Homo sapiens: one gene and its partners. The protein of the gene in region 4 interacts with the protein of the main gene of each other region in a pairwise test. Each region holds a gene or a part of one and is shown on either strand. Other genes may lie near its edges. The genes, in order: CORO2A, SAMD3, DAPP1 and FXN.

Region 1 (7,030 bases), about 29 Mb from region 4:
GCCCCCTGAAGTTGGGTATAGAACAACCAGCACAAATACACGCAGCAGCTCTGCAGACACCCCATACAAACAGATGAGAAAGCGCTGTGGATCGGAAGAGCGAGGGCCCAGGTTCCCTCAGTGCTCCCCACAACAATTTTAGTTATTTATTTTTGAGACAGGATTGCCCAGGCTGCAGTACAGTGGCATGATCATGGCTCACTGTAGCATCAACCTCCTGGGCTCAAGTGATCCTCCCACCTCAGCCTCCTGAGTAGCTGGGACTACTTGACGCATTTTCCCACACCTGGCTAATTTTTTCTATTTTTTTGTAGAGATGGGGTCTCACTATGTTGGCTGGTCTCAAATCCTTGGGCTCAAGTGATCCTCCCACCTCAGCCTCTCAAACTGTTGGGATTACAGGTGTGAGCCACCATGTCCGGCCCCCCACCTCCCTTTTATCCAACACAGAGGGTCCCGAGGTGTCTCTGTAAACCCCTATAGTGTCAAAAGGAAAGAACTGAAAGGCCATAGCTATGGTGCCACCAATTCCATTTGTGTACAGATTGGGAAACTGAGGCCTAGAGAAGTCAAGGCACTTTCCCAGGCTATAGTGCAGGTCAGAGACTGAGTCGGAATAGAATTGAGGTCTCCTGTACTGTGGGTCCCAATCTACAGGGCCTACTGCCTGCATGCTTGATTGTCAGTGGAGCAGGGTCGGGGGAACGATTTTCTGGGCAGTGCCATCCCATCCACTCCGGGCAGGCTATAATGAGTTGAACAGGGTTCCCCCCAAAACTCATGTCCACCTGGAACCTCAGAATGTGACCTTATTTGGAAATGGGGTCTTCGCTGCTGAAATTAGTTAAGATGAGATCATAATGGATTAGGTGGGCCCTAAATCCAATGATAGTTGCTCTCCTCTTCCTATAAGGAAGACAGGTACACAGAGAGAAGGCCGTGTGAAGACAGAAACAGAGCCTGGAGTGACGCAGCTATAGCCAAGGATGCCTGGAGCCACCAGAAGCTGGGAGAGGCATGGAAGGATTCTTCCCTAGGGCATCTGGAGGGAGCTGGCTCTCCCAACACCTTGATTTTCGATTTCTGGTCTCCAGAACTGTGACAGAATACATTTCCATTGTATTCCAGTTTGTGGGAACTTGTTGGGGCTGCCCCAGAGAAAGAATACCCAGACTCACCTTGTAGTCATAGCCAGCACTGAAGAGGATGTTGGCGGCCGTGGGGTGCCACTCCACCAGGCCTACTCTGCGCGCGTGGCCCACGAGTTCCTTCCTGTAGGCCGTGAGGTTCCTGGTCAGCAGCTGCTTGGGGATGCTCCAGATCTTAATCTGGCAGGGGAGACAGGGCCCAAGGCAGCATTAGCCAGGGCACCTTGGCACCGTCACCAGCCTAAGCCACAGATCTGGCAGTGACCAGCAGAAGGACCAAGGGAGCTCTCTCCATAGCCACCTCCCACTCAGTGGCTATGGGCATTGAGGGGCAGTGGAGGGGCAGCTGAGGGTCCTCAGACAGACAGGGGCTTCCCCAAGCTCCTCCAGCCTGAGCAGGGGCCAGCGCTGACCAGGGATGAGTCTAGGCCTCCAAATCTGCCCTTGAGAGATCTTTGTCATCCTGCTGGCCTGAGGTGGTGGGCAGGTGGCTGGGTTTCAGGCCTGTCTCCTAAGCTAGGATATCCCCAAAGTACAGTGTTCTTCTTGTCCCAAAGACCCAGGGTAGAGCCTCAAATGCCAGGATGAAGGGTTTAGGCTGCATCCTCAGGCACTAGGGAGCCGGCGAGGTCTCTGCAGCAGGGCAGGGACAAACTTCTTGCTTTGGAGGTGCACCCTGGATGGCCTGCAAGAGGAAACTCTGAAGGTCAGGAGGCTGGGCTGGATGGGGTCATGGGCCTGTATTTCATGGTGAGGGCCTGAGAAGAGGTGCTGGGACTTCCTTCCAGAGTAGTGTTGTCTGAAGATGGAGGGGGCTGCCATGGCAGAGAGTAAGCTCCCTGTCACAGAGGTATACAAATGGAGTACAAGGTGATCCTGGGATGCTGCTGACTTGATCTTCCTTATTGGTCCTGCAAGGTTCTCTGGCCCCTAGTTGATTGTATGCACTGTTTCCCTTAGAGGTATACAGGTTTTTCAGGTAGACGACTTTGCTTTCAATTCAGCAAATATTTATTTCCTGGTCATCTTGGATTTAAAACCAGGAAGCCAACCCCACGAGAGTAGTGACAGGCTCCAGATACTTCGGTCTGATGAGGGCTGTCACTGCATAGAACCCCGGGAGGAAGACACACTCTGAAGAGGTATGTTTGGAAGATGAAGGTACCACCCGCAACACTGAAGCAGAGAAGACTCCCCACTGCTAGAGGAGCAACCGTGCCCTCCAGGCCCTGAAGGCAGGGAGGAACACCCCATAAATTCACTGTGGGCATAGCTTCGGGGAGGAAAGCCCCTTCCTTCTTCAGTCCCCCAACAGTCACGTCCTGCCCTGGGGCATCGGGGAAGGGGCAGTGGCAGGCAATGAGGCTAGCAAGAGATTTATAAAGATCTTGATGGGAGCCTTCAAAGCAGTCCTGAAAAGGCAGGTATCACAAAAGTGGGGACAGTTTCAGATATTTGATATCCTGCCAGAGGCCCTATACTCCCTGGGGACAGGGCCAATTCTCACAGGACCTGATTGTCCCTTTGGTGAAATCACCTCGGCAGACACTGTCCTTTACGTTCCTCAGCATCTGCTATATGGAAACCGACACAAATCCTCTTTGAATTTTCTGCCTTCCTTTCCTGATGAACTGGTCTGCTTCTTTTGATCTAACTGAAGGTTTTGCAATACATTCTGTTGCCCATTTTGCCTTGGCTGCCAGGTAGCTCTTAGCTAAACTAGCAGCTTAGCTGCTGCAACCCTTCTTAGCCATCATTTCTAGTATTTCCTCAGTTTCTCCATCTGTGGCTGCTTCTCTTTAAAGATGTGTCACAGCACATTGGAAAGAGAATGGGCTGTGGAATCAGACAGGCCTCAGTCTGAAGTCTTGCTCTGCCTCCCACAGGCTGTGTAACATTAGGCAAATTGCTGTACCTCTCTGATCCTCAGCTTCTCCATCAGAAAAATATCCTACCTTGTGGGGTTGCTGGGGAGACTGTGAAATGATAAGTGTGATGACAGTTAGGAATACAGTGGGCTCACAATAAATGGTGACAATGACTTTTATCTTTATTTTAATCATCTGATCATATCTGTGTTTTTTAATTTTTTAATAGAGACAGGGTCTCACTATGTTGCCTAGGTTGGTCTCCAACTCCTGGCCTCAAGTGATTCTCCCACCTCAGTCTCCCAAAGTGCTGAGATTACAGGTGTGAGCCACTGAACCTGGCATATCTGTGGTTCTTGTCTTAAGCCATACCACCATATTTTAGAAGTGGGTACAAAATGAATTGTAAATAAGTAACACTGAACATTGTTGGGGCAGGGATGATAACCCTGGTACAGAACACGGGCTCAAAAAAGTGAGTGAGACTGAAGCTGCTGGAATGGTTTTAGTGTCCACATTCATCCAAGGCCCTCACAGCCTTTTATAGCTCGCTTCCTCACTATGGGATTAAGTGGAACATCTTTTCTGATCACCATAAAAATGCCCCTCATAGCCTTTTATAGCTCCCCGAAGGATGGGTTTTCCCATCGGAATATACATTTTCACTGGGCTTTATTAGCTGGGTGGAACTATTATGCCCATTTTATATGGGGGGGAACTAAGGCCCATAGAGAGGAGGGGTGGTGCCGCTAGTCCTACAGCACCAAGAATGTCTCCTCCTCTACCTTAACTTAACACCTCCCCACACAGTGACCTCACCTCCGCGATGGAGTCAGGGGCACCAGAGCCAAGAACAGGTACCATTCCACCCCAACCACCCCAATCCCACTCTTCAGGAAGGGGAAGCCCCTCAGGGGCTGACACTCACTGTGGCATCTTCAGAACAGGAGGCGATCTCAAAATCATCAAAAGGGTTCCACTTGACATCCAAAACGTTGCCTCTGTGCCCGCAGACTTTTGGGTAGTGGGGGTCCAACTTCCCTGTCTGCAAGACAGTGCCCAGGAGGGTTGGGGAGGAGGTGGATTCCACATTAGCATCTGGACAGTCACATAGTCAGTTAGCAACCAGTCAACAGGAAAACATAAGGGACAGAGCTGGGTGTGAATCTAGGCCTTACTTCTTATTCCCTGTGGGATCCTGGGGGAGTTACTTCACTTCTCTGAGCTCTGGTGTCCTCCTCAGTAAAAGGGAGCAATCACAGGTATTTCACAGGTTGGTGTGAGGATCATGGGAGAGGAGGTATGGCACAGTGCCTAGCACATGGCAGATGTTCAATAAAAGGGCATTTCCCCTCACACACTGCTGGTAGGCATGTAAAATGGTGCAGCTCTTTTGGAAAATAGTCTGGCAGTTCCTCAAAAGGTTAACCGGTTCCCACATGACCCAGCAATTCCACTCCTAGGTCTATCTCCATGGAAAATGAAAAGATAAGTCCGCAAGAAACTGTTTCACCTAATCCCAGCACTTTGGGAGGCCAAGGTGGGTGGATCACCTGAGGTCAGGAGTTCGAGACCAGCCTGGCCAACATGGTGAAACCCTGTCTCTACTAAAAATACAAAAATTAGCCGGGCGTGGTAGCATGCACCTGTAATCCCAGCTACTCAGGAGGCTGAGGTAGAACACTTGAACCTGGGAGGTGGAGGTTGCAGTGAGCTCTGATTGCGCCATTGCACTCCAGCCTGGGTGACAAGAGTGAAACTATGTCTCAAAAAAAAAAAAAAAGAAACTGGTTCACCAATGTTCACAACAATATTCTTCATAATATCAGAAAGTGGAAACAACCCAAATGCCCATCAAGTGAAGAATGGACATACAAAATGCAGTATATTCATGCAGCAGAATACTACTGTCCCTAAAAAGAGGAATGAAGTACTGGTCCCTGCTACAGCATGGATTAACCTAGAAAACACTAGAAGAAGAGGCCAGGCACAAAAGGCCACACGTTGTGTGATTCCACTTAGATGATGTTCCAGATGTGGTTTCATTGCCTGAGCACATTAATGCATCCCCCTGGTACCTGGTATCTGGAACCCTAAGTAATGCATATGAAAAATGCAGAACGGGCTGGGCGCGGTGGCTCACGACTGTAATCCCAGCACTTTGGGGGGCCGAGGCGGGTGGATCACGAGGTCAGGAGATCGAGACCATCCTGGCCAACATGGTGAAACCCTGTCTCTACTAAAATACAAAAAATTAGCCCGGCGTGGTGGTGCACGCCTGTAGTCCCAGCTACTCGGGAGGCTGAGGCAGTAGAATCGCTTGAACCCAGGAGGCAGAGGTTGCAGTGAGCCAAGATCATGCCACTGCACTACAGCCTGGCGACAGAGCAAGATTCTGTCTCAAAAAAAAAAAAAAAAAGAAAGAAAAATGCAGAACGATACATTCATGGAGACAGAAGGCAAGATTCTGGTTGCCTCAGGCTTGGGAGAAGGGGCAATAGGGGGTGACTGCTAATGAGTGAGGGGTGTCTTTTTGGAGTGACAAAATGATTTTGAAATTAGGTGGTGGTGACAGTTTATTCACAGTATATTCACAACCTTGTGAATATACTAAGATCCACTGAACTATACACCTTAAAACGGTGAATTTTCCAACATGGCAACAGGACAAAACCCCGTCTCTACAAAAAATCAAAAAATTAGGCCTGGCATGGTGGCTCACGGCTGTAATCCCAGCACTTTGGGAGGCCAAGATGGGTGGATCACCTGATGTCAGGAGTTTGAGACCAGCCTGGTCAATATGGTGAAACCCCACCTCTACTAAAAATACAAAATTAGCCGGGCGTGGTGGCACATGCCTGTAATCCAAGCTACTTGGGAGACTGAGGCAGGAGAATCACTCGAACCCAGGAGGTGGAGGTTGCGGTGAGCTGAGATTGTGCCACTGCGTTCCAGCCTGGGCAATAGAGTGAGACTCCGTCTCAAAAATAAATAAATAAATAAATAGCCAGGCATGGTGTCGCACACCTGTAGTTCCAGCTACTTGGGAGGCTGAGGTGGGAGGATTGCTTGAGCCTGGGAGGTCGAGGCTGCAGTCAGCTATGATTGTGCCACTGCACTCCAGCCTGGGCAACAGAATGGGACCCTGTCTCAAACAAAAAACAAAACACGGTGAATTTTCTGGTATGTGAATTCTACCTCAATTACATAGAAAGGGCATTTCCCTCATTTTCCCCTTTCCTAATGAGAATTCCTGTATAGGTGCTGGGAGGGACATACAGGTCCCCCAGCCCATGCCACACAGCCCTGAAGCTATTTCCAACTCCACCAAGAGACTTGGATTTCTTGGGGTCATAGAGAAACCACACCAGTTCAGTCACAGAACCTTGGACTGGCAGTGACCAATCTGCTCATTTTGCACATCACATTGCATGGCCCTGGCAGAACAGGGACCAGGACCCAGGCCCTCGACCTCCCACATCCACCATCTAGTTCCAGGTTCTTGAGCCACCCACCAGAATGCTCCCCCAGCCATTTTTATATCTAAGTGAAAGAGACAGCTGAGAAGAAAACTGGCCAACATCCATCCATCCCACAAATATTCCCGAGGTGCCCAGGGGACAGGTGCTGTTGGAGGGGCTGATTGCAAGGTGAACACTCAACATAGTCCTTGACTTTGCAGAATCAATAGTCTTGGGATTTTTTCTAGAGGGACTTTCAAGAACAGGGTGGACTCAGGGAACACCCAACCTTCTCTTCTTCCATCACCTCCCCATCTGTGTAGAGACCACTGTACTTGTTTTTTTTTTTTTTAAGAGACAGGGTCTCACTCTGTTGTCCAGGCTGGAGTGCAGTGGTGCAATCATGATTCACTGTAGCCTCGAACTCGGGGTAAGACAATCTTCCCACCTCACCCTCCCAAGTTCCAGGCTAAGAACTACAGGCATGTGTCACCAAGCTCAGCTAATTTTTAAAATTATTTGTAGAGATGGGGTCTTGCTATGTTGCCCAGGC
Region 2 (6,167 bases), on a different chromosome or scaffold from region 4:
CAAAAAGTACTTATGCAGCCATTGTTAAGAGCAGAACAGATAGAACTGGACTCTGGGCAGTAGCCAGTTGGGCATGCAGGATGAGTCACTGTGTTTCCAAGGCGAGAAGCAGTAGCAGATGAACACAGGTCACAGACATCAGGACCTGTACCAGCAAGATCAGCCAGCAATGAGGAGACCTCAAAAATGCCGCAGCCCTTATTCTCAACAAGCGATTAAAGACAACCAGATCTCCTGGGGCAAGGCAGATCCCCTGAGGGAGAGAAGAGTATGTGTCCCTTCTTGAAATGTTCAATGCAAGTTCAAAATGTTCCCAAGTGATGTTCAGACCAAAGAGACAGCCCACAGGCCATAAATGTGCAGCTCCTGTGCATTAAGTGGGCATGCTGAATTCAGTCCAAGGCCATTCTCTAACCTGAAGGATTTGAGTACAGTGTATTTCAAAAAAACTGAGGCACCTCTGAAAATATAACTTAACTGCGGAATTTCTAAAAACTCAAAATAAATCGACAGCTCTTTAATGAAGTAGAATTTTATTACAGAATTTCACAAAGAACTTAATATCTAAGTGTAAAGATAGAAAGCATTGAAATTCATTAGCATCTATAAATACAAGATGATTTTCTCATACCTACCTCTACCACAACCCTAAATCAAAACAATTTCTTATGAAGCTTCAGTTTTCCCAGAGGTAAATTCCAGTACAATATTTGGCATGCTATTAAGTGAGTGGGTGCTGAAATCCTACTTCGTTTTCCTTTTCTTTCAAAGAAGGAAAATAAGGACTGTGCATATCGAAAATCAGCGTTTCTAGGAAGTTGAAAGTTTGGGACAGTCTTCTTGGACACTCAATCCTAAATACATGAAAGGCAGCTACTAGCGCAGCCAAGGCTGTAACACAGTCGTCCACCTTTGTGAGCCTCTCCCTTTCTAAATATAAAGAAAATTCGCAGACCTCCATGTTGAAAGGGTTTTTAACTTCCAACACAGGTGTGGACACTTGCACCTGAAAAAAAGAGTGGAGTCATTACCATGATACGTAAAATAGCTAAATAATAAAACATCTGAACTTAATCATGGTATTACAATAAATCAGCTTGTTGCAATGTAGCATATTTGTAAATATGACAAACATACTTCAAAATAGACCACCAACTTTGCTTTTAAATAAGTTATCGCGGTTGGGCTCAGTAGCTCATGCCTGTAATCCCAGCACTTTGGGAGGCCAAGGCAGGTGGATCACCTGAGGTCAGGAGTTCCAGACCAGCCTGACCAACACCGTGAAACCCCGTCTCTACTAAAATACAAAAATTAGCTGGGCGTGGTGGTGCATGCCTATAATCCCAGCTACTTGGGAGGCTGAGGCACGAGAATCGCTTGAACCAGGAGGTGGAGGCTGCAGTGAGCCAAGATCACGCCATTGTACTCCAGCCTGGGCAAAAGAGTGAGACTCCATCTCAAAAATATAAGTAAATAAATAATATAAATAATCGCATGAAGATGTAAAATGTCAAACTAGTGGCCATTCACATACTACATACCTGTTCATTCATGATGACAAAAAGGCTGGGATCATCCCCAAAAACATCTGGGAGGAGTAAACATGTGGCTGTCATCTTCATGTCTGTCAAAGCAAATATGTTAACATGTGAAGTAAAAATAAGCTTTTAGCAATTGTAAGCTAAGCTAGTATTGAAACATCTGGATTTTTTGTTACCTTGGACAGAAAACAAACTAGCCTTCTTAGATCAATGTTTCACACCTTTTTAAACCATACCCTCTTCTAATAAAACATTCAAAATCTCGTATCTGCCCTCCAGAGCACTTCCAGAAGACAAGAGTTCTGTACTGTCTGTCCATCAGCCAGGAAGAATTTATGCTGCCCCTTGTGATTTGTATTGTAAAATTAACTGGTTACTAGTTCCCTAAATATAATTTTACAATATCCAGTATACTTTTAAAATCTATACCTCTCCTCCTCCTCTAATTGGAAAAATTCTTTTTTTTCCCCACCAGTTGTTTCACTTATTACTTAAATATTGAAAATTATTATTAAATATATTTTAGTAATGTAAATTTTTAATTTTTAAATATATTTTTAAAACTCAATAAATGTAAACTACTGAATTTTACTGACTACCAAAGCATAACTTTTCTAGATATTCTGATAAATAACAGATGAAATCACACCACTCCATAAGGTTTACTAACATTTCAACATGTCTTCATCTGTGTAATGTTTCATTTTTTCTTGCAATACAATATTGATTGGATTGTCCACCACTGAAAAAGAAGTCAGTATATTTTCTGAATAGGATTCCAAAATGTGCCTTGTTTTCTTATAAATATCTGTTCTTGTAAGAAGTTGGAATTCTCTGAACATCTGACAAAAGAAGAAAGCAATGGATACATCAGATCACAAGAAAAGCTAATATATAGAATGTAAAGACATAAAACCTTTAGAATTAAGCTTTGAATGCTGGTTTACACTAAGTACTCAATATTTTAGAAGTTTTAGTGGAGAATTAAAGCCTTAGGATGAGGGAGGAGAAAAGAATGAAAGCCTGAAATGAATTTGAAATGATAAATAATGGGCATGGCAAATTTCTAAACCTACAGAACTAAAACTTTGGATGCAGACTCAACTAAATGAGGATTCAAAGGGTGTATGCATATGCAGGCTATTTGGGTTACCCAGCTAAGGTTCTAAGATCTTACATTTCTTTAGGTGACTACATTGTTATGTCTTGTTCAACAAGCAGCAAAGAACAAAACTGTTAGATTTTAGGAAGCAAGCCCTGACAAATACTTAACCATAGTATCCTAAATTTAGGTAAAGGAGAGTGCTTTAGAAACTAAGAGTAGACAGAGGTAAACAGTGAAAAACGATATATGGCTGGGCACGGTGGCTCATGATTATAATCCCAGCATTTTGGGAGGCCAGGGCAGGAGGATCACTTGAGCCCAGGAGTTTGAGACCAGCCTGGGCAACACAGAAAAACCCTGTCTCTACAAAACACAAAAATTAGCTGGGCATGGCAACATACGTGTATAGTCTCAGCTACTCAGGAGGCTGAGGTGGGAAGATTGCCTTAGCCCGGGGAGATCGAGACTGCAGTGAACCGAGACTGTGCCACTGCACTCCAGCCTGGGCAACGTAGTGAGACCCTGTCTCAAAAGAAAAGAAAGAAAAAGAAACAATGTATGTGCAGATTTGACTACAAGTTCAAAGCAAAACCAGTTTACTTTATGGAAGTCCCTTTCCTCAAACTACCCCATCCTACCACTGCCTGAACTCTTCCCCCTCAGAGGATTCCACCACCACTCCCCCTCCTGTTTTTGACAGTGGCATTATCAGATTATTAGCCACCCACACTCCAGTGAATTAATTTAGTCATTGCTTTTCCTAAAACTATAAAGAACAATCACATACTACCCACTGGGCCTCATTGTTCCTTGAATGTTTTGGTAGATCATAAATTGCCTAGAGATTAGGTCTGAAAGTTAAGTTGTCAGAAAGCTGGAATGCATAAGGCATAGTGGCTTTGTTACCAGGCAACCCACAGTGGACCACTAATCTAGATTAATACCGTTAGAAAACCGTTTTCTCAGCAGGAAGATGTGAAGGGAAGGATGAAGGAGGTGAATACGCCACTGTTCTGGGCTCATAGCCTAAGAATTTCTTTTCTGACTTTTTATGTTTTGAAATAATTTCAAGTTTGCATTAAAGTTGCAGAAATAGTAAACAGAACTTACAAGTGCCCTCTGTGCAGCTTCCCCCAATTTCTGATCCAGTTGAAAATGAGCTGTAGATACAATGCCCCACTATTCCTTAATACCTCATTGTGTATTTCCTAAGTACAAGAGCACCCAAATTCAGGAAAATCTACTACACATTCCATTCAAATTTGCCAGTTGTTCCAGTCATATTCTTAACAGGCCCAGGATCTAATCCAGGATCCCATATGAGATTTAGATACCACGCCTCTCTAGTCTCCAGTCTGAAACAACTTGTTAGTTTCCTTGACGGTTTCTGAAAAGTGGAGGCCAGTTACTTTGTAGAACATTTCTCCTTGGAAGTTTTATGATATTTCAAGATTTATGCATTTCTGGCAAGAATATTAGCATTTCTCACTGTGTCCGGAAGCACAAAATGGTAACTGGTCCCAGTATTGGAGATAATTTTTATTACTTGATTAGAAATGGAATTCACCAGGTTTTTCCACGTAAAATTAATATATGTTGTATTTTATGAGGAGATACCTTGAGTTTATGTCAATATCTTGTTCCTTGTATAACTTTGATCCATCAGATTCCACATCCATTAATGATTCTTGCCTGAATCAAGTACTACTACAATAGTTGCCAAATGGTGACTTTTCTAATTCCTTTCTTTCTACATGGATTAGTTGGCTTTCTATTTTAAGATAGTTTCTTTTCTTCCACATATATTTACTTACTTATTTCTATCACTACAGGTTAATCAATTCCCATTTTACCCAAACGGTTACAAATCTGATCCTTTCATTATTTATAGAATTGCTCGAATTGCCCAGACTTGGCCAGTAGGAGTCGCTTCAAACAGACTGCCGTGCCCTCTTGGCATGTCCTTATTAGTGTGCAAGCACTTCCTTCATTTCTGGCATTACACAGTATTTCAGACTCGTCTTGACTCGTCTTGGTTTGTTGTTGTTGTTTTCATTTTTGTTTTGCCCCCAACCCTGTAGTGAGCTATTTCTCCACGAACCCTAATTCCTTTTCATGAAGAATGGCTTTAAAAACTAAGATTTCAGGCCAGGCACTGTGGCTCATGCCTATAATCCTAGCACTTTGGGAGGCCAGGGCAGAAGGATCATTTGAGCCCAGGAGTTTGAGACCAGCCTGAGCAACATGGCGAAATCTGTCTCTACAAAAAATACAAAAATTTGCCAGGTATGGTGGCACATGCCTGTAGTCCCAGATACTCAGGAGGCTGAGGTAGAAGGATCACCTGAGCCCTGGGAGGCCAAGGCTGCAGTGAGCCATGATCATGACACTCCAGCCTGGACAACAGAGAGACTTTCTCAAAAAAAACCCAACCAAAAAAAACCAAGATTTCAGCCCTGGTGTGCAACTTGCTACGGAGATGTTATTGCTTTAGACTTTCTCATAGAAGAAATCTAGGAAATGTTTGAATTTACATAAACAAAGGCACCCGTTGATCCAGAAACACCAATAACTATATATGTAAATATTAAATAGCCATACATAAAGACTAAAACCATGAATTCACATTGATACTTTCAATTCCAAACCAATACCACAGGGCTTTTCCTAACCTTCCCCTTCCCAAGCTTCTAACTCTCTTCAACAGTGAGATTCCTGGCTCCCATTATATCTCAGTGTATTTACTTATGAGCACTAACATCTGTGTAGCCAAGCTCCCAGCTGTGAATGGTCAGCCACAGGAAAGCCTCCAACACTTATACACTGCTAGTGGGAATGTAAATTAGTTCAGCCACTGTGGAAAGCCGTTTGGAGATTTCTCAAAGAACTTAAAACAGAGCTACCATTTGACCCAACAATCCCATTACTGGGTATATACCCAAAGGAATATAAAGAAAGACGCATGCACACATATATTCATTGCAGCACTATTCACAATAGCAATAACATGGAATCCACCTAGATGCCCATCAATAGCAGACTGGATAAAGAAAATGTACATGTACACCATGGAATACTACATAGCCATAAAAAAGAATGAAATCATGTCCTTTGCAGCAACATAGGTGTAGCTGGAGGCCATTGTTCTAAGCAAATTAATGCAGGACTAGAAAACCAGATACTGCATGTTCTTTCTTATAAGTGGGAGCTAACCACTGAGTACACATGGACACAAAGAAGGGAACAATAGACCCCGGAGTCCACTTGAGATTAGAGGGTGGGTGGAAGGTGAGGATCGAAAAACTACCTATCGGGTATTATGCCCGCTACCTGGGTGATGAAATAACCTGTACACCAAACCCCCACGACATGCAATCTACTTATATAACAAACCTGCACGACGTATCCCCTGCTGAACCTAAAAGTTGGAACAAAAAGAAAGCCCCCCTTTTCACAACCCCAGATTATGTCCTACAAATTAATCATCTTAATCCTTTTTCTTTCTGTTACTCAGACTGGAT
Region 3 (7,030 bases), on a different chromosome or scaffold from region 4:
GACTTGACTGTTCTTTGACAAAGCCCTGCATAGGTGTAGCCTGCAGTTAAAAGTCAATAAAACATAGTCCTCATAATGGAATGATTGAGGATGAAGATAGCAAGTTTACTCTAGAACATCTTTCGTTCTTCTTCTAAAACAAGGAAGAAGTCAAAATTGTATAAAATGTTTCTTTAAGGATAGGCCAAAAACATCACTGATGCTACTGAAACTATGTTATAAAATCCAAAGAAAAACACAATTTAAGCTCTTACAAGTTCAGAGTATCCAAATGTTCCCCATTTATGAGACTGTATCTTTAGAATTCCTTTGTTTCATCTCAATGTGCCAAGAAGACCTTCATGGAATGTGTCTGCTCCTTCTCGTTTTAAGAGTCACGGTATTTAACCTCTCACAGACACTGACATGCTTGGAATTAGCCTAAATAATTTCATTATTTGTGTCCCTTCTAGATCGAATGCTCCCTGAGGACAGAGAGTATTCATATTCATAGCATATTTATGTTTAAATCCTCTGTTACTTCTTTTAACTGGGCACATTGACACCCAGGATAGAGTAGGATGCTGTTTGTATATAAGAAGGTAACAGCGGGCAATGATGGTTTTTACCACTGATACCTTGGAGTTCTTAGGCAAGGTTTAGAATATCATGTGAGTCAGGGTTCCTAAACCTCAGTTTTGTTGTTTGTAAGACAAGAATAATAATACTGGCATTGTTGTGTGAGGATTGGATATAATATATAAAGCCTCCAATGATAGTATATCGTCCATATTAGGTACTCAAAGAACAATATTTATCTTTATTATAGAGTTAATAAAATGGAAATTGTAGTGGTTTGTTATAAGTCACATTGAATATTTATGATAGACTAATTCTTTTTGTATTTAAAAATATACTAATGATATATCTGCCTTCATTATGAGCTTAATGCATGAAATTAATTTTTATAGATATTTTGAAACTTTTTTCTCAGAAATGACACAAAAGAATTTTTTGAGCTTAATGCATGAAATTATTTTAATTTTTATAGATATTTTGAAACTTTTTTCTCAGAAATGACACAAAAGAATTTTTTCAGGGTTATAGTATTTAATTTTTTAGATACTTTTAAAATGAAAGTAAATCATCTGGTTCAAATATTACATTCCTGTATTCAAAACTTTGTGTGTCTGTGTGTTTGTGTGTGTGTGTGTTTTTCTCAGACCTGGAAAACAAGATGGTTTACTCTGCACAGGAATGAACTGAAATACTTCAAAGACCAGATGGTGAGAAACATGATAATATATTTTTCCTTTAAAAATCAATTCTCTAGATGAAAGAAACTTAGGTCTTTAAAATCTCTGAAATTATTTTTATATCCACCTGAAATACCTAATAAATGATTGGAGATATGAATTCTTGATTCCTGAAATGAGCAGAGTTATTTTGCAAAGATGAGATGTATGTCCCAGAAATTGCTTTCTTGGATTGGCTAAACCATAGTTCCCCAGGGCACGTAATTCCCTCTGTTTAGGACAATGTAATTATTCTCTTGCCACAATTTATTAACTGTCTCTTTGCAGCAATTTGTCCCTTTATTAAAAATACAGTTTCTCCATTTCCCATGCCCATTTCATTAAGCCAATTTAAAATTATTTTTTCTCACTTTTCTTATATAACATTTCTAAGAAAGTAGAAGTTTTAAAAAATGAGAGAAAAATATACCTCTCTTCCATGTGTTAAAATCCATCTTCATCAGTAAGTTGATAAAGGTAGTAACTTAATGCCCAGTTTTATGAAAGGCTCATTCCAAAACCAAGGACTTCCCTTGGTAGGGCTTTTCTATTGTCAGTCCTGTTAGTGAAAGGAAATATGACAATTGCACATAGTGGAAAACTTGTGAGGGGAATAAGTGAGGGACAGATTTGTCTGTTTTTTTTTTTTTTTTTAATGGTGACATACGTTGCTTTTTATTTTATTTAGTCACCAGAACCAATTCGGATCCTAGACCTAACAGAATGTTCAGCTGTACAATTCGATTATTCACAAGAAAGGGTAAACTGTTTTTGGTAAGTTGTTTTATAAAGAAAACGTTTTTTAATGTCTTCTTGCCAGACACTTATTTTGGCTAAGGAATAGAAAGCTGTATATCTTAATGTCTACAAAGATCAGATATGAGGGGCATGCCTGCATGTAAGGAGTGTTTTCAGCTGAGTGTGACATAACACCTCATTTAAAGTAGCTTAAACAAACAGGCAGGTCAGCTCAGCTTATGTTGCGTACTGGAGAAGTATGACTCACATAGAGGATGCCATTCACATCTTAGACAATTTAATTTCTTTGAGGCTTTCTCCCTCATTTTATTTATAACTTTGTTGACTCTAATGATAGGTGATTTGTATTGTTATGACAATTTCTGGCAAATGGCACAAAAATATTTTGTTCTAACATAATCAGTATGTTATAAAAATGTTCTAACTGGGAGAAGAGTCTTGAGAAAGGAATGTCTTATTTCCCACTACCTTTTATTTTAAAGTTTTTCAAGCATACACAAGTTGAAAGACATACGTTTACATACCCTCCATAGCAGTTATTAATATATCTTACCATATTTGCTTTATCCTAGTCTATCCACTTTTTTTTTTTCCTGAACCAATTGAAAGTAAGTTGCAGACATCATGGCACTTTATTCCTAAAGACTTTAGTATGTGTCTCTTAAGAATAAAATATCACATATAGGACTACAGTATCATTATTACAACTGAAGAAATTAATGTTAATTCTATAATATCAACTGAGAATGGGTGTCTTTTTAAAATTTGCATAGACATGCCCTGTGAGCTAGCAGAGCTTTATTTTTCTCATATATCCAAAAATCAGGAGGCAAGCAGCTATGGTGACAAGGTCAGGTCCAGGGTCTCTACTGTTCTCCTGGCCTTTTCTCATGCTGGCTACTTCAGGATTTGAGTGTCTACTACACCTGTAGGTCTCATATTTTCAACAAAGTACAAAGAAAGATGTAGGGATGATATTACCCGTGTCTGTCCCTTTTTATCAGGAAAACCAATGTTTCTCCAGAAACTCCCCTATGAGACCGGGTGCCATGGCCATCCCCAGCAGCTGATCATAATTGGCTTAAACAAATTAGGATTTATTGCTTGGGGTTCTGTTAGCAAAAGAAAGGGATAATTATCTGTATTAATAGACAGTTAATAATGTCTCCCATAGGGAGTACCAAACAATGACAATGACAGAAACCAGTTTTCGAGTATATGCACTGTATCACTCCCTCCCCACCACTGTCCACTCACTCTCCACTAGACCTCACATCCAGGTATTAGCTTCTATGCACAGAGACTTACCTCTTACCTATTCAACTTTAATTGCTGGTATCAACAAAATACACTGCTTAGGCTTTAAGATATAGAAACCCTTCTGAAGGCTTTTTCACAAAAAGAAAAAAGATTTTTGGTATTTTTGCATCTCAACTGTAAGTAAGGAAGTATGTTCAGTATGTAATTTAGGGCTGACCTTATTGCTTACATAATTTTAACTAGGTAATCAGACACAGTCAAATGAAAAATTACTATACATTTAGGAAAAGTATTTTGTGCCAGTAGGAAAGTTCTTATTCCCTGCAGCAGAGACTGACTCTTGGCCAGAGATGGGAGAAATAACTAATTTAGTTTTATTGTCTCTTTTTATTGTCCCAATAGTTGAAATTGCCCACAACCACAGAAGGCAGAGTTATCCTCGTTGAAGCAAGCTAACACAAATGAGTTCTTTTTAGCAAACTTCTCTGTCTTGCCTATTCTTTGGATCATAGCACAAGTTTTTGAGAGATCAGCTGAATGAATACATAAGTGTTAGAGTTAACCTAAGACATGAACCACAAAAGGATCTAGGGGTGTCCTGAACATGTTTCTTTCTTCTTCAAAGTCTTATTCGAGTATATACATCTGACTTGGAATAATAATATGAATCTACAACTTCCTTAACATTTCTGCAGTTTGCTGGCAGGAGTAGGTGCATATATACCAGCACTTCAAGGTACTTACCTGCATCCTTTATCAATTCTTTTTTCCCTTGCAATACTCTAATTAGTGTTCAACTAATATATATATATATATATATATATAATATATATAATATATTATATTATATATTATATTATATATATTATATATATATATATATATATAGCTAATGATCTGCAATATCTTATGTTCTTTCTTTTGTCCTATTAGTTTGGTATTTCCATTCAGGACATTTTATCTCTGTGCAAAGACCGGAGTAGAAGCTGATGAGTGGATCAAGATATTACGCTGGAAATTGGTGAGAATTTTTAAGCCTTCAGATGTCAAGTCTTGAGAAATAACATGTTGATGATTTCAAACATATTTCTATCAAAAGAGTCAGACTAGACCCAAGAATCAAAGAGATGTCTGGGTGTCTACTTCCAGGCTTGCGGAACAGTCTGTTAATTCTTCTGGGACATGAGAAGAGATGGAGACAGGATTGTAAAAAAGAAAGAATTAAGCCATATTTGGGTCTTAGACATAGAGCCTTAGCCTAATAACCACCTATCAGACTTCCTATAAGGTGTGTCAGTTAGTTCAGTTTTGTCTGGAGGGGGACATTTAGAACCAGAAGGTCTGACAGAGGAAAGCTGACATACTTCTCTAGTTGAAAAGCCTTTTAAATTGTTAGAGAAGAAAGTTTGCCAGAGGCACTTAGCTTAGTTTCCAATGTAAGCATCACTTTGTGCAGGTCAAGGACAAAAGCTGATTTATTTTGTCTGCTCTCTGTATATCTCCCGAGGAGAAGACTGAGTGAGTACTTATAAAACTTCACCAATCTTCTACTTGTTTTTCATGTGCTTGCAAGTTAGTGAGTTCTTAGCCAAGAACTTGTCCTTAAAGCTGACTAAAATTTCCTATAAATACCATCTTAAAAACTTTGATGATTTCTTTTTTTCTATTTTTTTTTTTTTTTTTTTTTGAGACAGAGTCTCGTTCTGTTGCCCAGGCTGGAGTGCAGTGGTGTGATCTTGGCTCAGTGCAACTTCTGCCTCTTGAGTTCAAGTGACTTTCATGTCTCAGCCTCCCGAATAGCTGGGATTATAGGAGCTTGCCACCACGCCTGGTTAATTTTTGTATTTTTAGTAGAGAAGGGGTTTCACCATTTTGGCCAGGGTGGTCTCGAACTTCTCACCTCAAGTGATCCACCAGCCTCAGCCTCCCAAAGTGCTGGGATGACAGGTGTGAAGCACCATGCCCGGCCAGATGATTTCAAACAAAATATTTTTCTTAATTATTTTTTGCAAAATTGTCTGATATATATGAAAATTCCTTTCTAGATACTGAGACTTTTGCTTTCAGTTATGTTTTCAGTTTGAAATTCAAATAAGTATACCATTCATTTTTAAATTCTTCCAATGTATCAGTGAGGGATAATTTGTCTTGTGAAACCTTTGCTCAGATATGGATTAATTTCTTATTCTTTCTATTTTTAATTATCAAAGTAACACAAAATCATTATACAAGAATTATAGAAAAATATATCAAGTATACACACTTTTAGACTTCTCTCTTTACACATAAATATTTAAAAACAAAATTTAATCACTTGCTAGAAGTAAAAACCACAATGATGTACCACTACACACCCTTCAGAACGGATACAATGAAGACTGTCAATATCAAGTATTAGCATGAATGCGAAGGAACTAGAACTCTCCTACATTGCTAGAGGGAATGAAAATGTGTACGGCTACTTTGAAAAATTGCTTGGCAGTTTCTTTTAAAACTATACATATACCTACACTATAATTCAGCATTTTCATGCTTAGGTATATCTAAGAGAAATGAGTGCATGTATCCACTAAAAAATGTTACAATAATGTTCATAGCATCTTTATTGATAATATACAAACTCCAAACAAAACAAATCACTTGCCAGTGTTCTATATTTGCTCACTTCACTTAGCAATATATTATGAACATTTTTCCATATTATCAATTTTAGATCTATATCTTCCTTTTAACTCATTGAATAGTATTGCATTTTATAGATTACTGTAAGTATTAGACCAATTCCCAATTTGTACATGTTTTAGCAATCACTTTACAATATGTGTCCTAAAAAAAAATACAGAAAATTTTTCTGGACACATGATAATTAGCTTATAGTTGGGGGTGAGCACATGATAATTAACTTAGAGTTGTATGACATCCTTACTAATCAACATGTCTTATTTAATATTTGTTAGAAGCCAGGGTTCATTACAATCACTCAATAATGGATACACGTGTGTGTACTTTATTACAGTCACAAATAAGAAAACAGCTCAACCAAGGGGAAGGCACGATCCGATCTCGGTCGTTCATCTTTAAATAGATCTTTCTTGCCAAGGAATGCTCTGGCCCAGGAGCAAGGTGGAATGTTTCCCTGACGCTGTGATCTGCAGCAGGCTTCAAATGAAAACCGACTAAGGATTTTCTTTCAAAAACAAATCAGAAGCAGATGCTGATTGGGACCCATATACCACGTTGCTGACTCACGTTGCTGCCCTTCCATGATGTTGCCATCTCCTTGAGAACACTGAAGCAATCACCATTCTGATAGAAAGTGCTTAAACCACCACTCTTAGGTCTGCTCACTCTTAGAACACACAATGGAAGAGGAAGGGTTTTTGTTTTCACTCATTGTGGTCCCCAAGCCTATTGACACTAGTTGCCTAGAGTCCCACTGTGAGTCATGGTCAGCCTGTCTGACATCCAGGTTGTGCTATTAACCAAGAAGGAAACAGATACTTGGAGGCTTAGATGACTTCTGCAGGATTTATATTCAGATAGAAAACATCAAATATTTTCAGGGGAGAGGTTTTTTTTTTTAATTTTTCCCCCTTTATACAAAAAAAAAAGAACATTTCCAAAACTAAAATAGAAAATGCTTGTGGCATTTATTTTCTCTTTTTAAAAGGTTCAGAAATTTGGCAGGTCCTTTGCTTCTAATGACAAAACTGTGAGAGCTAGATGTCCTATGGGCA
Region 4 (7,100 bases):
TCCCCCAAAATCTTGGCTCACTGCAACCTCTGCCTCCTGGGCTCAAGTGATTCTCATGCCTCAGCCTCCCGAGTAGCTGGGACTACAGGCACCCACCACCATGCTGAGCTAGTTTTTAGTAGAGATGGGGTTTCACCATGTTGGCCAGGCTGGTCTTGAACTCCTGATCTCAGATGATCCACTCGCCTCGGCCTCCCAAAGTCCTGGGATTACAGTCGTGAGCCACCGTGCCTGGTCTCATTACTGATTTTTAAAATACTGATTACATGTTGGAATGATAATATTTTGTATGTACTAGGTTGAATAAATATATTGTTGAAAATGATTTTTTTTTCTTTTTAACTAGAAAATGTAGAATTATGTGTGTGGCTCCCATTCTGTTTCTGTTGAACAGCTGCTTTAGAAGTAGATGCAAGGGGTGGAGAAAAGGGTGGGGAAGAGGCCTTCAAGTGAACTCAGTTTCTGATGAATTTTGGAGACCAGGGGGAGCTTAGGGTCAATCCAGGACAGTCAGGGCTTTAAAATAATTAAACAGGATGGTGGCCCCAGTTGCCACTGCCACCCACCCAACTCCTCAAATACCCAAGATGTGCAAGGGAACTATGGAACAGACAGGTTAAACAAATGTGATTAATTCAGTATAGAAAAAAAGAGGCCCAGCTGGTGACAGAGGTTGCTAACCATCTATCCAGAAACCCAGTGTCCACCTCCTGGGCGGCAGCGCCAAGTTGGGTGTGTTTGTCAGTCAATAGCCCTTAACAGCCACCAGGTACCATCTAAAAAACTGTACCACCTCTTGTCATTCTCCTAAATTAAAAACTCTGCTGATGGCCAGACGCGGTGGCTCACGCCTGTAATTCCAGCACTTTGGGAGGGCGAGGTGGGCGGATCACCTGAGGTTGGGAGTTCGAGACCAGCCTGACCAACATGGAGAAATCTGTCTCTACTAAAAATACAAAATTAGCCGATAATCCCAGCTACTCGGGAGGCTGAGGCAGGAGAATCACTTGAACCCAGGAGGCAGAGGTTGCAGTGAGCTGAGACTGAGCCACTGCACTCCAGCCTGGGCAACAAGAGGGAAACTCTGTCTCAAAAAAACAAAACAAAACACAACTCTGCTGACAACCCATGCTGTCCACACAGGCAGGGGTGGAAGCCCAATACGTGGCAGCTCAGATAGTGCACAGAAGCCAAGTAATAAATGTCTGCTTTCCTAGAGGAGATCTAAGGACCATCATGGCCACACTTGCCTATTTTTCCAGAGATGCTGGGAAATCCATTTTATTTTTTATTTTTATTTATTATTATTATTTTTTGAGACGGAGTCTTGCTCTGTCGCCCAGGCCGGAGTGCATTGGGCGATCTTGGCTTAATGCAACCTCTGCCTCCCGGGCTCAAGCGATTCTCCTGCCGCAGCCTCTGGAGTAGCTGGGATTACAGGCGCGCGACACCACGCCCGGCTAACTTTTCTTTATTTTCTTCTTCTTCTTCTTCTTTTTTTTTTTTTTTTGTATTTTTTAGTAGATACTGGGTTTCACCATGTTGGCCAGGTTAGTCTTGAACTCCGGACCTCAGGTGATCCACCTTCCTAGGCCTCCCAAAGTGCTGAGATTATGGGCATGAGCCACCGCGTCCTGCCAGGAAATCCATTTTCTAAGTCCTAACTTTTAAGCACTGGCAACCAATCCCAAAGTTTCTTCAAACACAATGTGGGCCAAATAACACGTGTGGGAAGTTCAAGCCTAAAGTACAAACTCCGGAGAGCAACACAAATATGGCTTGGACGTGGCCTGCCTCTTTCATCTCCCCTAATACATGCGGCGTACCAGCCACTCTGAAGGGATCCCCTTCCGCCTTCCTGGCCTTTGCCCAGACGGTTCCCTCCTCGTGAAACACCCTCTACCACTTCCTTGGCATCTTCAAGACCCTCATTAAATACCATGTCCTCCCCTTGAGGAATCTTCCTCATCCCCACAGCCATTCTTTGGGTTTCCTCCTTTCAAGCCGTGGCGTAACTGGGTCAGATATTTCTTTGTACCCCCCAAAGGAAGAAAGGGGAACTAATTTGAAGTTCTGAAGACTTTATCTATGTTATTCCCATTTAATCCTCACACCAGGTCCGCAAAATGGGCGTCACCTTTATCTTCTCCCTACAGAAAACAAAGCCACGTCTCAGAGAGGTTAGGGGAATCCCCCAAGGTCACACAGCTCTGCGGAGTGGGGCAGAATCTGGAATAAAGGTCGGGTCAGTTTCCAAAAGCCAGGGCCCCTGCTGCTCTAGCTATTCTGCAGCTCTGAAAGTTTCACCTCGTTCCAGGAAAGCATTTCGTTCAAAAAAATCCAGCCTTGAAAATATTAGGTGTGCGCGCGCCCGTGCGCGCAAACACACACACACAACACACACGCTATATACAGATACACACAGACACACACATTATGTGTATGTATATACTAGCAGATACCATCTATTAATATTACTGAAACAAGTTATCGCAGAGAAGTGACAAGCATGGAGACAGCCGCACACCCCTCGGAACCGGTCCCCTCCACCAGCCTGCCCTGCCTTCGCCCGTGCCTTGACCCGCAGTCGCACCGCAGGACAAAATGTCCCCTTTTCCTTCGGAAAGCAGAAGCCAGTGTAAATGCAACCGGGAGAACCAGAGAAGGGAGTTGCAAGGCCGCTTCCGCCGGGCCGCCCTGAGAAGGAGCGGGGTGAGCTAGTCCAGCGCGCGTACCCGGAGCGACCCCGGCGTGCGCGGCGCCTCCCTGCGCAGGCGTGCGGCGTGCGGCCCGCGGCGTGCGGCCCGCGGCTGTTCCCGGCGCGGATACTTACTGCGCGGCGGGGCGTGCAGGTCGCATCGATGTCGGTGCGCAGGCCACGGCGGCCGCAGAGTGGGGCCAACTCTGCCGGCCGCGGGACCCGGGTGAGGGTCTGGGCCTGGGCTGGGCTGGGTGACGCCAGGAGGCCGGCTACTGCGCGGCGCCCGAGAGTCCACATGCTGCTCCGGGTCTGCCGCCCGCTCCGCCCTCCAGCGCTGGGTGCTGCGGCGACCCCTGGTGGCCACTGGCCGCAGGCACTCTTCTGTGGGGGAGCAGCTAGAGGTTAGACCTCAGGAAGAACTTCCCAGCTTAGCACTATTCGTGCATTTAACAAAAATGGAGAGCCTGCTTTGTGCAAAGCACGGAGTGCAACCAGGACCCCTGACCCAAGGGAGACTGCAGCCTGGTGGCCCGCCGCTTCTAAAATTCTAAACAGGAGGAACTTGGGAGCTGCTGTCTTGCTGGGAAGTGGGTGCATGCACAAATTGAGGCTGCTTGGCCGCCGGTATGGGTTTACAGCAGTTGGGTATGTGGGGCCAGGAGACGGATGCCTTGTGTAAATCTGTACTCTGCCCACTTCCTAGCTGTGTGACCAGAGGGCAAGTTAATTAACCTCTCTGTGCCTTGTTTATAAAATGCGTTTTATAAAAGTTCCTACTTCATAGGATTGTGGTAAGGATAAAATGAGTTAAGCCCTGTAAAGTTTTTTTTGGACAGGGCATGTTCCTGTTAAGTGCACAATAAATATTGTTAATAGATTTTATTGATTGATTGATTGATTGAGACGGAGTCTCGCTCTGTCGCCCAGGCTGGAGGGCAGTGGTGCGATCTCGGCTCACTGCAAGCTCTGCCTCCCGGTTTCACGCCATTCTCCTGCCTCAGCCTCCCGAGTAACTGGGACTACAGGCGCCCGCCACCATGCCTGGCTAATTTTTTGTATTTTTTTTTTTTTTTAGTAGAGACGGGTTTCACCGTGTTAGCCAGGATGGTCTCGATCTACTGACCTCGTGATCCACCCGCCTCATTTATTTGTTTGTTTGAGACAGAGTCTCACTCTGTTGCCCAGGCTGGAGTGCAGTGGTGTGGTCCTGGCTTACTGCAACTTCTCCCTCCCGGGCTCAAGCAGTCTTCCCATTTCAGCCTTCCAAGTAGCTGGGACTACAGGTGTGCACCACCACACCCAGCTAGTTTTTGTATTTTTTGTAGAAAGGGGGTTTCGCTATGTTGCCCAGGGTGGTCTTGAACTTCTAGGCTCAAACGATCTGCCCGCCTGGGCCTCACAAAGTGCTGAGACGACAGGCGTGAGCCACCGTGCCTTGCCTATTGTTGATAGATTTTAAAAGAGAATTTTATTTCTGTTACATATTACAAAGGGATGCAAATTGTGAAAGTTTTCTTCACATTTTATATATGCTTTAGAGGATGTCAAATGTGAGCCGAGTGTGGTAGTGCATGCCTGTGATCTCAGCTACTCAGGAGGCTGAGGCGGGAGGATCACTTGAGCCTGGGAGCTCAAGGCTGCAGTGAGCTATGATTGTGCCTGTGAATAGCCACAGCATTCCAGCCCGGCCATCATAGCAAGATACTGTCTTAAAAAAAAAGAAAATGTCAGTTGTGTACACTTTCCATGGCAGAGAAGATGGGAAGGTACTAAAGTTCTTCCAAAGCCACTTTGTGAATCGTGAAGAGAGACATGTTTACATACTTAGGATGCTAAATGACAAGTGTCAAGAGGAATGTAAACTAACAGGTGTGAGTGTTGAGTGGGAGATTTATATAGAGCTAGGGATGGGGGAATCAAGGAAGTATTCATGGAAGAAGTGGTGTTGGCACAGGGCCTTCAAAAATAGGGTGGAGGAGGTGGGATCTGATTGCCTATCAAAGAGGTGGTCCAGGGCATTCTGGATGAGAGACATCCTTCTGTGTTTAATTAATTCTAGGCAGCTGCTTAAATACTGTTATGTATATGCCAGGCCTGGAGAAATCATTTTCCCCCTGCAAAGTATCTGGAGATGCTTTTGATTGTCACAACAGGCAGCTGTGGGGTGGGTATGTTCTACTGGCATCTAGTAGGTAGAGGCCAGGGATGAAACATCCTGTGATGTGCAGGACAGCCCCCCACCTGTGCAACAAAGAACTATCCAGTCCAAAATTCTGCCAAGATTGAGAAGCCCTCCTTGAAACCATAAAGGGAGAGCCCATAGGCATCAAAGGGTAGTGTTTTCATTGCCAGCCATGGTCTCAGACTCTGCCACACCAACAGTGAGGCCCTTCCTCACATCATCAGAACTGCATTATATACTCAGAGAGAGAAAGCTGCATCATTAGTTATTATTATTATTATTATTTGAGACAGAGTCTTGCTTTGTTGCCCAGGCTGGAATGCAGTGGTGCCATCTCTGCTCACTGCAATCTCCACCTCCTGGGTTCAAGAGATTCTGTCTCAGCCTCCAGAGTAGCTGGGATTGCAGGTGCCCACCACCACGCCTGGCTAATTTTTGTATTTTTAGTAGAGATGGGGTTTCATCATGTTGGCCAGGCTGGTCTCGAACTCCTGACCTCAGGTGATCCGCCCGCCTCGGCCGCCCAAAGTGCTGAGATTACAGGCGTGAGCCACCGCACCCTGTGCTACATCATTATTAGCTAGCATGCTTAGCAAGTTCTGGCATAGAAAGGTCACTAGCAAATGCTCCAGCTCCCTGCAAAGTTGATATCATTGCCCCATCTTTTTGGCCAAAGAAATAGACATAGAATAGCATATCAGAGAAGACGAAGGCTTCGCAAGAACTTGTCTTTCTCCACTTCCTTGGAGGTAGTCAAGAGGAATCAGGCACACTTGGTAAGAAGCTGGGGCACCGTGGCGTGGGCAAAGATGTTGAGGGACTCTGTGGTACACTGTAGCTGTTCCTCTCTTGGTTGCTTTTAGCCTCAAGTAGGCAGATCCTAATAGCTGTCAGGTTATGGGTAGGGGAGGATATCACCAGAATTCCCTTGCTCTGCCATTAGGATATTTTGATAGGATTTATCAGAGGGCTATGATTATCAAATGTGGTCGCTGGGCCAGCAGCCTCAGCATCACCTGGAAACTTGTTAGAAATACAAATTCTCAGGCCCTATTCTCGATCTACTGAATCAGAATCTCTGGGGTTTCAAGGCCCAGCAATCCATGGTTTAACAAGACCTCCAGGTGATTCTAATGTGCTTTAAAGTTTCAGAAGCACTGTGGTAGCATAGGCCTTGGGCAAAATTGTGAGTTAAGCCAGTGTCACCAGGGTGATCATTTTAAATCTAAAAATCTAAATCTCAAATGTGAATCTAACCATAGCCCTCTGCTTTCACCACCATCAAGATAAATTCCAACTTTCTTAGCATGACAGAGGAAGCTCTCTTGCCCACCTTAGCTCTCCCAGCGCCCTTACCACTCTCTTCTGTACACCCCACTCTGCATATTGGGAGGCATCTAGACATCTTTGCTTCTTCAAGCTATTTGTAGTTCCTAGAACAAGTGATGCTTTTTCCCTCTCTGGCTATCCCTCATGTTGTTCCTTAGTCTTCCATCCCTTTGCCTGGTATGGAAGATTGGATCTTCCAAAGAAGGCCACACCAATATTTGTCACATGTCATATGCTGTTTGGGACTTTGACATTCCTGTCACCCAGGGATGTTATCTATTCTCCTCCCTTCGAATTCGGGTTTGGGCTACAACTATTCCAACCAACAGGGTACTGCAGAAGTGCTGCTTGGTGACTTCCAAGTCCAGGTCATAAAAATGATGCATCTTCCTTCTAACTCCCTCTCTCTCTCTTTTTTTTTTTTTTGGGTTTTTGTTTGTTTGAAACAGAGTCTCATTCTGTTACCCAGGCTGAAATGCAGTGGTGTGGTCATAGCTCACAGCAGCCTTGACCTCCTGGAATCAAGTGATCCTCCTGCCTCAGCCTCCTAAGTAACTGGGACTATAGGTGTGCATAACCACACCTGGCTGATTTTTAAAATTTTAAAAATTTTTGGTAGAGACAGAGTCTCACTATGTTGCCCAGGCTGGTCTTGAACTCCTGAACTCAAGCAACCTCCCACCTCAGCCTCCCAAATTGCTGAGGTTACAGGTGTGAGCCACTGTGTCCGGCATTCTCTTTTTGGGATGCTGACACTGAGGACCAGCCATCATGTTTTGAGGAAATCCAAACTAGCCAAAGTAGAGAAACAATGTAGAGAGAGCTGAGGCCCCCTCAGCCAACAGCCAGGGTCAACCAGTAGACATGTAAATGAGTCATTCTTCAGAT

What was found.
Region 1: the proteins of FXN (region 4) and CORO2A interact in binary tests that used the Homo sapiens proteins (3 or more experiments, as listed by UniProt).
Region 2: the proteins of FXN (region 4) and SAMD3 interact in binary tests that used the Homo sapiens proteins (3 or more experiments, as listed by UniProt).
Region 3: the proteins of FXN (region 4) and DAPP1 interact in binary tests that used the Homo sapiens proteins (3 or more experiments, as listed by UniProt).

Annotation. Positions count from the first base shown.
Region 1 is NC_000009.12:98,133,628-98,140,657, forward strand, and holds part of CORO2A (coronin-2A), read right to left. Parts: intron 4,062-7,030; coding exon 3,945-4,061; intron 1,329-3,944; coding exon 1,179-1,328; intron 1-1,178.
Region 2 is NC_000006.12:130,143,799-130,149,965, forward strand, and holds the end of SAMD3 (sterile alpha motif domain-containing protein 3), read right to left. Parts: intron 2,384-6,167; coding exon 2,212-2,383; intron 1,625-2,211; coding exon 1,542-1,624; intron 1,007-1,541; coding exon 722-1,006; 3' UTR 517-721; downstream 1-516.
Region 3 is NC_000004.12:99,861,808-99,868,837, forward strand, and holds part of DAPP1 (dual adapter for phosphotyrosine and 3-phosphotyrosine and 3-phosphoinositide), read left to right. Parts: intron 1-1,202; coding exon 1,203-1,265; intron 1,266-1,962; coding exon 1,963-2,048; intron 2,049-3,918; exon of another isoform or gene 3,919-3,988; coding exon of another isoform or gene 3,989-4,029; intron 4,030-4,226; coding exon 4,227-4,314; intron 4,315-4,749; coding exon of another isoform or gene 4,750-4,767; exon of another isoform or gene 4,768-4,811; intron 4,812-6,309; coding exon 6,310-6,378; 3' UTR 6,379-7,030. UniProt on the Homo sapiens protein: May act as a B-cell-associated adapter that regulates B-cell antigen receptor (BCR)-signaling downstream of PI3K.
Region 4 is NC_000009.12:69,031,681-69,038,780, reverse strand, and holds the start of FXN (frataxin, mitochondrial isoform 1 preproprotein), read right to left. Parts: upstream 3,030-7,100; 5' UTR 2,999-3,029; coding exon 2,834-2,998; intron 1-2,833.